Linked DNA regions of Homo sapiens: region 2 is reported to be linked to region 1. Evidence: microRNA targets listed by miRTarBase, many of them from high-throughput screens and not tested one by one. Region 1 holds a microRNA gene; the other region holds the end of a gene's coding sequence.
Evidence for each region. Region 1 holds the annotated microRNA hsa-miR-320b (AAAAGCUGGGUUGAGAGGGCAA, at 1,550-1,571, shown strand). A microRNA usually pairs through its seed, bases 2 to 8, with sites in the 3' UTR of a target mRNA and lowers its output. Matches are read on the target gene's strand: a 7mer-m8 pairs with bases 2 to 8, a 7mer-A1 pairs with bases 2 to 7 and ends in A, and an 8mer does both.

Region 1 (4,395 bases):
AGATGATCACAGCTTAAACTAGGGTGGTGCTGATGCAGGTTGTGGAAATGGGTGGAGTCTGAAAGCATTTAGAAAGCAGAGTCAATGAAATTCTCTGAAGAACTGAATATGGAGGGGGAGAGAAAGAGAAGAGTCAAGGAATCTTCCAGAAGGGGCATCTCAGCCTGCTTTGGAACTCTCTGACCCCCACCAAGGTGTACCCCCATCAAGGTGCAAGACTGTACTTTCTGAGGCCTCTGCCTAGGCCTTCATCCTTGAACCCCTATACTCAATTATCCCTTCTCTATTACTCGTTCTTTCAATCTCAACCTGCCCCTCTTCATACTACTTGGCCCCTTGCATCCTTCTGGATGATCTTTCAACCCTTGACTTCCATCACCACCCAGATGTGTTATGGCTGATTCCCAGCATGGCATTCTTTCTAATTTCCACATCTACGATATGCAAAGAACTGTGCAAAGTGTTGGATGGGGAGACAAAAGTATAATTTAAAAGAATGCCTCTGCCCTCCAGACATAGAAACGATTAAATGAGTCCTGAACAGTGATGTGATGGTGGCCCCTTCAGGAGTTCATCAGCAGGCAGAGAAGTGAATTGGAGGCTGGGTACAGTGGCTCACCCCTATAATCCCAGCACTTTGGGTAGCTGAGGTGGGCAGATCACCTGAGATTGGGAGTTCAAGACCAGCCTGACCAACATAGAGAAACCCTGTCTGTACTAAAAATACAAAAAATTAGCCGGCCATGGTGGTGCATGCCTGTAATCCCAGCTACTCAGGAGGCTGAGGCAGGAGAGTCTCTTGAACCCGGGAGGAAGAGGTTGCAGTGAGCCAAGATCGTGCCATTGCACTCCAGCCTGGGCAACAAGCTCCAGCCTGGGCAACAAGAGCGAAACTCTGTCAGAAAGAAAGACAGAGAGAAAGAAAGGAAGGAAGGAAGGGAGGGAGGGAGAGAAGGAAGGAAGGAAGGAAGGAAGGAAGGAAGGAAGGAAGGAAGGAAGGAAGGAAGGAGAAAGAAAGAAAAGAAAGAAAGAGAGAGAGAAAGAAAGAAAGAAAGAGAGAGAGAGAGAGAGAAAGAGAGAGTCCTAAGGGAAGGAGAGATGTCAAAGGAGAGGAGTGCACCGAAGTCCCCAGTCAGCAATGTCTGGTGCCCGGGCTGAACATTCCAGCTTGCTTCAAAACATTCTGCATTTGAATTTTGAAACCTCTACTGCACCGGCCTGGAATCAGTTGTTTATTTTGGACATTTTGGAAGACTCCTTGATCTTGTCCATCAGGGAGTTAAATGCAGAAGCCTGCAGAAGCCGAGCTGAAGCACAGTGCCAGGGAGTACTGGGGCCTGTGCACCCAGAGCACAGCCTGAAAGAGCACGCACAGCTTCAGCAAAGTGTTGCTGCTGGGAAGGAAGGTGTGGTGTTGCCTGATTTTCCTACTTTTTAAGAGAATCAGGAAATCCACATTAAAAAAAAATTATTCTTAATTTTGCTCATTGGAAACTAGTGTTTCAAAAATAAATTAATCCCTCTCTTTCTAGTTCTTCCTAGAGTGAGGAAAAGCTGGGTTGAGAGGGCAAACAAATTAACTAATTAATTAACTAATTAAACACTTTGGGGGGGCCAACACAAAATTTTTTCGTGGATAAGATATGGCCAAGTGGTTATATCAGTTTGAGGTTTCTAGACCTACCAATAGCTATAACCAAAAGGCTAATATAAAACCACAAATGGCATAGAGTTACATGTTTTAAGGGGAAAAAAATGAAGGGTGTTAGCCAAGTTATCCTTCATCACTTGAAAGAAGATTGAAGCCAAGGCATTTTGTCTAAGGATAGGCTGATACTGTGTACTCACAAGCAACTGATGTTAATTGTACTTAATGTACTTCAAAATGCCAAATGAAAAGAGCAAACCTCCCTACCTCACAAAACAGCCAAGTTGGAGCTAAAAGTGTCCCACTCAACAATTCTCCCGAGAGCCAGCTTTCTTCTGGGTGATTACCCTCCTACACAGGCAAGGATCCCCAGAGCCGAAGACTAGGAATAATTTACACAGGACACCATCTGTCTTTTTTTTTTTTTTTTTTGAGACGGAGTCTCACTCTGTCACCCAGACTGGAGTCCAGTGGTGCAATCTCGGCTCACTGCAATCTCCACCTCCCGGGTTCAAGTGATTCTCCTGCCTCAGCCTCCTGAATAGCTGGGATTACAGGCACTCACCACCATGCCTGGCTAATTTTTTTTTGTATTTTTAGTAGAGATGGGGTTTCACCGTGTTGGTCAGGCTGGTCTCGAACTCCTGACCTCAGGTGATCCACCCACCTCGGCCTCCCAAAGTGCTGGGATTACAGGTGTGAGCCACAGCGCCCAGCCCCCACCATCTGTCTTTAAAAAAAGAGAGAGAGAGAGAGAGAGAGAATTGACTATGATATCTTGAGATCAGGGTAGCCAGTGGGTAGTCCCCAAAGGCTTTATCCACAGGTGGGTGTTCAGAACCTGAGATGCGCCATCTAGCGTTAGAGAAGGGTCTGGATTTGCGCCCCCGCCCCCGATGGAGCTTCGAAGATGACTTTATCCCACAGGGGGAAATAAGATTGTATTCAGCTAACGTTCTTCTTTCCTCACAAAACCCCTGTGCTGTGTTAGCTTATTTTCTTGGATGACGGCGAAGAGCGAATCTGAAGAAGAACGCCTGGGCTTGTGTCCCAGATCTGCACTTATTGACACCTAACTCCCCAGTCAAGTTACTTAACCTCTCTTACTCTGGGTTCCTCATTTGTAAAAGGGGATAACAAATACCACCTGCCCTCGAAGGGAGGCTGGAAGGATTAAATAAGTTGACATATGGAAAGAACTTAGCAAAATGCCTGGTATTTAGTTCTCAGTGTTCATTAGCTATTCTCTTCACTAATCATGTACTTTACATGGTCTAAGGAGAGGAAACCAGGAGTCAGAAATTCTAGCTTCCAGTTGCTGCTTATGCTGTGTTTTGACCTCTCTGGACCTAAGTTTCTTCTGTAAAATGAGGATGATGACCAGGCACGGTGGCTCATGCCGGTAATTCCAGCACTTTGGGAGGCTGAGGCGGGTGGATCACCTGAGGTCAGGAGTTCGAGACCAGCCTGGCCAACATGGTGAAACCCTGTCTCTACTAAAAATACAAAAAATTAGCTGAGCATGGTGGCAGGCACCTGCAATCCCAGCTACTTGGGAGGCTGAGGCAGGAAAATCGCTTGAACCCAGGAGGCGGAGGTTGCAGTGAGCCGAGATTGCGCCATTGTACTCCAGCCTGGGTGACAAGAGCGAAACTCTGTCTCGAAAAAAAAGAAAAGAAAAGAGGTTGATTAGACTAGTGAGAAAGTCCCAAACTGGCTGTGCATGAGTTACTCACAAAGCATTTAAAGTGCAGATTCCCAGGCCCCATTTAGAAGATCCTATTTCTGAACATATGTCTGAGACTAGTCTAAGAAGACTTTTAAAAGGGATCTTTCAGGTCAAAATTTTATGATGGATTTTCACAGATTCATGATCCCATCCCCTCTGTCCAAGTCCATTTTTGATTGGGATTGAGAATTCCCTCAACTGCATAGCTTGACCCCAGATCAAAAGAATCAGAGGAGCTCATCTCTTCTACCAGTATTCCATTCTGAACTTAGTTCTCACCACGGTCAACAGGCTCCCGATCTTTCCCAGCCCCAAACCTTGAGCATTTAATGACTCTCCATTCGTCTTTTCCAAAATCTCAGCAAATCCTGATTTTTTTCTTAACTCAATAGCCTTGCATCTGCATCTCCTTACATCCAGCTCTGGCTCTTGGCCCATGCTCTTCCCTGTATGGCCTCCCTCCCTTTGCTAAAGAATTTAAAGAACCCAAACCTGTGGGTAGGCTGAAAGCCATGACGCTTGTCACGTTGGAGTAGCTTTTCTGAATTAGATTGGCTGACCCCCAATCTTTCTCTCTCAACGTCCCAGGGCAGCTGGGCTGTCTGCCTGGGCTGGCTGCCACTTTCAACCATGCTGTGGTCCAGGTGGAGGACTCTAAGAATTTGACTTGGCCTCTCCAATGAAAAGATGTTAGTTTGATCACAGAGCGTCTGTCCTTGCACAAGGAAAAGTGTGTCACCATATATCTGAGATTCTAAGAATCCAAACAACCATGATATTACAGCAGAATGGAGCCTTGTAGATGGGATGTTTTTTCTGAGACATCTGTTACCCCACTAGTCGCCAGGGCTGTCTGGCCTGATCTGGCTGGCATGTTGCCTCTCCCTGTAAAAGAGTGCAAAGACATTGGCAAATCTCACCCAAATATATATGAATTTGGCTGTCAGTTTCCAAAAGTTCACTTGGAAGTTAATTATTTGGAACTCAGAACATATTTTCCCATAACAGTAATATAATA
Region 2 (4,395 bases), not on the chromosome of region 1:
GGGTTCGGAGGAAGGGCTATAATAATTGTTACAGAATCATGATAATTTTTCACTGATGTTATGGGACCGTTCTGATTTTCCCTTGCCTGCCTGTCTTCCAGATGCTCTCTGTGTGGGTATGTGTGTAGCCATCCTCCTTCTTTGAAGTCTCATATGTGGAAACATGCAAGTGACCAAAATTACAACTACGAACAAGTAAACAAGGCTATTAACGACGCGATTTCACAAAGTGGCAGGTATTTCATCCTACCCCCTCCCTTTATTGCTATATGTAAATTAAAGCCAGGATTAAATCTACTAGTCCTACATTGTAGCCTCCTCACGGTGTGCTGTGTTTGTTTTGTTTTTAAGAGTTCTGGGGAAATCCCCTGGAAAGACTCAATTAAAGAGCAGTGAAGAGAGTGCAGATCCCGTCACTGGAAGTTCAGAAAATGCAGTGTCATCTTCAGAACTGATGTCCCAGACTCCCAGTGAAGTTCTGGGTACCAACGAGAATGAGAAACTGAGCCCTACAAGTAATACCTCATATAGTTTAGAAAAAATCTCCAGTCTGGCCCCTCCTAGCATGGAGTACTGCGTTTTACTCTTCTGCTGTTGTATTTGTGGTTTTGAATCAACCAGCAAAGAAAACCTCTTGGATCATATGAAAGAGCACGAGGGTGAAATTGTAAACATCATCCTGAATAAGGACCACAATACAGCTCTAAACACAAATTAGGTGGAATAATGACTCGAGCAGGAAAGCAGTAGAAGAGGATTCCTTCACCACAGTTTCACCTTTACGCTGTCAGACAACTTCCTGCCACAGAAGAAGTCGTTGATGTGATTTTTGAGGAAATGACAGATGTGACTTTGGAACCAAACTTGTAATAAAAGGAATTCCAAATGGACAAGCAGTAATGATATTTAAATATTTTGAGTGAGGGGGAGTGGGTCAAAGAGGAAGTAGAGGTGTAATCCTGTATTAACCCTCTGTCACCCCTTCTTAGTGTCGAGTGTATTTATTAATAAAAGCTTATTAGAGTGTAGAAATGCCAGCAAGAGTTAAGAAAGGGCTTTTCAGGAACTATTCTAAAAGTCATAAAAGGGTCACAGTCTTAAGCAGAGCTTAGTTTTCTTCTCACTTGTCAAATGCAGACTGTGAGGCCTCCAGTGAGAAATGGGAGGCAGTTCTGGGAGGGGGTTTTTTCAGTGTCACCAACAGAGTCAACAAGGAAACATAATTAGAGGGCTTTGAAATGATCTACTGAAATACCTAAATTGATAGAAATTAATCATACTCAATCTAGGACATGTTCCTTTACTCCTTAAAAAAGAAAGGAAAGATCTCTAAATTCAAAGCTAGATTGTAAATAGGCATTCAAGAAGTATTGTCTTAAATTTACGATGAATTTCTTGTGAGCAGAGGACGAAACAGGTGAATTCTCACCAGACTCAAACCAGATCTCAATTCGTAGTAATGCTAAATCGTCTTCCGTGTTCTCAGAGGTTCTTTTCAGTGTCTGTCAGAACTTGGCATACTTTCTCCATAGTACGTAGACCTTCTAATACTCTGCTAAATGAAACCACACTTGTTATCTGAAAGTGTGTGAAAGAAACAATGTATGAAAATTTACATTTGATCATCCGGCATTGGAAATAGTTTGAACTATTTCCAAAAATCCCTTAGGGGATGAGGGGTGAAATTTAAAAGCTCCTGAAAATGAGTACTGCTGTGTTGAGCTTTTCTTTCCTGGGGTATATTAATTTAGTTATATTTAGCAGAAGAGGAATATAACCAAATGTGACTAAAATATAGCAGAAATTCAGGTTGTTTGTAAAAATTTTAATAACAAATAGCATTTGGCAAGTCTATAGGATTCTTCCTATCTGGAAATTCTATTTTGTTAGAGTGCGATAGGACATATGGAAAACCAACACAAAGTGCTTTAGCATTAAAACTCACCATCAAATAGATGTAATCTTATTAATTACACATTTTGTATTTTAATTATTTCAAGGAGTGAAGAAAACAGGGTGTTTTTGTTTTTGTAGTTCTGATTACTCATTTATGCATTGTTTTGTTTAAGTAAATTCTGCCTACAAGTGAAAAGGTCGGTGCGCTCTTCTGTGCACCATCCTCACGGTGCTATTTCCGAATATCTGAATATTGATTTCTAACACCTGGATGAGGCTGTGACCGATCAACTTGGAACACTGTAAAGGTTTTCGAATGGGATACGCTGTAGGCACGTTTTAAGAAGTATTCTGTTCCTAAAGTCCAGGTATGATTGGATTAATATTTATAAAATTATTATTAGGAATTATTTAAGTGGGGCCAGGCATCTTGCAACATTTTCTGATTTTTTTTTCTTTCTTTCTAATCTCATTTTGGTGATATTTAAACAAACATAAATGATTGTAACTTTGCAGCTTTTTTATTTAGGTAGCTTTAATTTATTTATGAAAGTTAATCCATTTCTGATACGTGGTTTTTAAAAATATGAAATGGATTTATATATACTATATTCCTCAAATCCACTGTATGTGGACTTATATTCATTTTCTCCTTTTTTCGGAATTGAAACATTTTAATTTCAAATTCAAATAGAACATTTAAAATGATTTCATTATTATTACCCATACTGTTGCCACTCATATTGTAAGTCAGTTTTTTCATTGCTGGTACAATGACTCAGTATTTCTTTATAAAAATCTGTTGTTCTGAAAATCAACAACCTTAGAAGGATTTTGTCTTAGAAAATTTCCTTGGCTTTAGTTTTATATCATATTTAGAAAATAATAATGAAAAGCATCCCCAAAATTTCAATGATGTGAATTTTTAAATTACCTTTATTTCTTTAAACTAATTCCATTGATTGTTACTTAAATTTTCCACCTGGAATCATGGATTTAAAATTTCCCCACCTCATGGGGAAAAAACTAACCCAGAAGTTCAAAGCCTTTAAAGTTTCATCTGATTCTGGCCTTAGAATTGTCCTTAAAAGCTTTCTCCTGGCCGATAGGAGGAAGCATATATCAAGGAGGTTCTTTCCCTTCCCATTATCATTTTGTGGCAAGCCTTAAGTTAACAATGTGTCTACCAAGAACAATTGAGTTTTCTAAAAGTAATAATGAAGATTATGCAATTCTAACTGTAGAAGAGATAGCTATTAAAATAATCAGTAGCCTGGGCATAGTGGCTCACACCTGTAATCCCAATACTTTAGAAGGCCAAGGCTGGAGGACTGCTTGAGTCCAGAAGTTTAAGACCAGCCTGGGCAACACGGGGAGACCCTGTCTCTACAAGAAATTAAAAATTAGCCAGGCATAGTTGGCACGTGCCTGTAGCACCAGCTACTTGGGAGGTTAAGGTGGGAGGATCACTTGAGCCTGGGAGATAGAGGCTTGCAGTGAGCCGTGATGGCACCATTGCACTCCAACCGGGGTGACAGATGAGGTCCTCTGTTTACCTCCCCCCCCAAAAAAAAAATTCAGTAGGAATTCCTTCATAGAATAACATGTTATTTATTGGTATTGACTTCTTATTAGACAGAGCTCATAGTATTTGTTTTCTGCTCCGAACACTTAAAAAATACTAAGACGTGATAGTGAAAATAGCTTTGAAAAGAAACTACATATGGCAAAGGTGGGGAGGGGGGAAGATGATGCATTCTGATCATTATAAAGAATACTTTTCAGGGCTCTATCATTTTCTCCCTTTCTCTAATCATCCAGAATATGGCGGGTGTCCCAGTGTTCAACAGTATCATGCTAATATTCCATTTGATCGGTAGTCCAAGTTCTTTGGCCAGATAGTGCAATGTTGTGACACCGACCGAAGCCTTTGTTCTGGATCTTTCTTCCTATTGAAGGTGGCTGCTGGTGGCTTCATAATTTTCTGTTTTTTTTCTCACAAAGTAAATGGTGGGCATCCATGTTTACATTGCACCTTCCCGTGCTGTAATTGGCTTGACAAAGACAAGCAGGCTTCTCTGTTGAGACTTATTGTGTTTTTAGTTTTCATAGACACTTATTTAATCTTTTTAAATTGTACAGCAAGGTGCTCTAAGTAATATTCGATAAAATATATTTAATAGAAATTTGCGTTTGATATTCATGAACATGAATACATGTATTTTTTTAAGAAATAAGTATTGTGTAACACTATGGCATTGCTTCTATAGCCAAAGTATAAAAATTTCTGGAATACTGACATGTAAAGACTACAGTTAATTCTGACACTGTATCTTATTAAAATAGGATGATTTGCATTTTGTAAAATTATCCTGCACATCAAGCTGCATGCCTTAAAGCGGAAACTCTAGGACTGTGTTCATGGGAGAGCAGTTCATCTGTTCAGAACAGTGAGGCAAGGTCTGTAGTGCTTCTTTAACTACCTTTGGAAATACTGTA

Region 2: miRTarBase lists ZNF507 as a target of hsa-miR-320b. Seed matches in the 3' UTR shown: 7mer-m8 at 2,410-2,416 and 7mer-A1 at 2,428-2,434.

Annotation. Positions count from the first base shown.
Region 1 is chr1:116,670,238-116,674,632 of GRCh38, forward strand. MIR320B1 (microRNA 320b-1) reads left to right here and starts at 1,509; the gene lies at 1,509-1,580.
Region 2 is chr19:32,382,366-32,386,760 of GRCh38, forward strand. It overlaps ZNF507 (zinc finger protein 507), which reads left to right. Exons shown (of 7, transcript NM_001136156.2): 6 at 102-236; 7 at 352-4,395. The coding sequence ends at 718. Among named protein-coding and RNA genes, the nearest start is that of DPY19L3-DT, 21 kb to the right of the region's middle.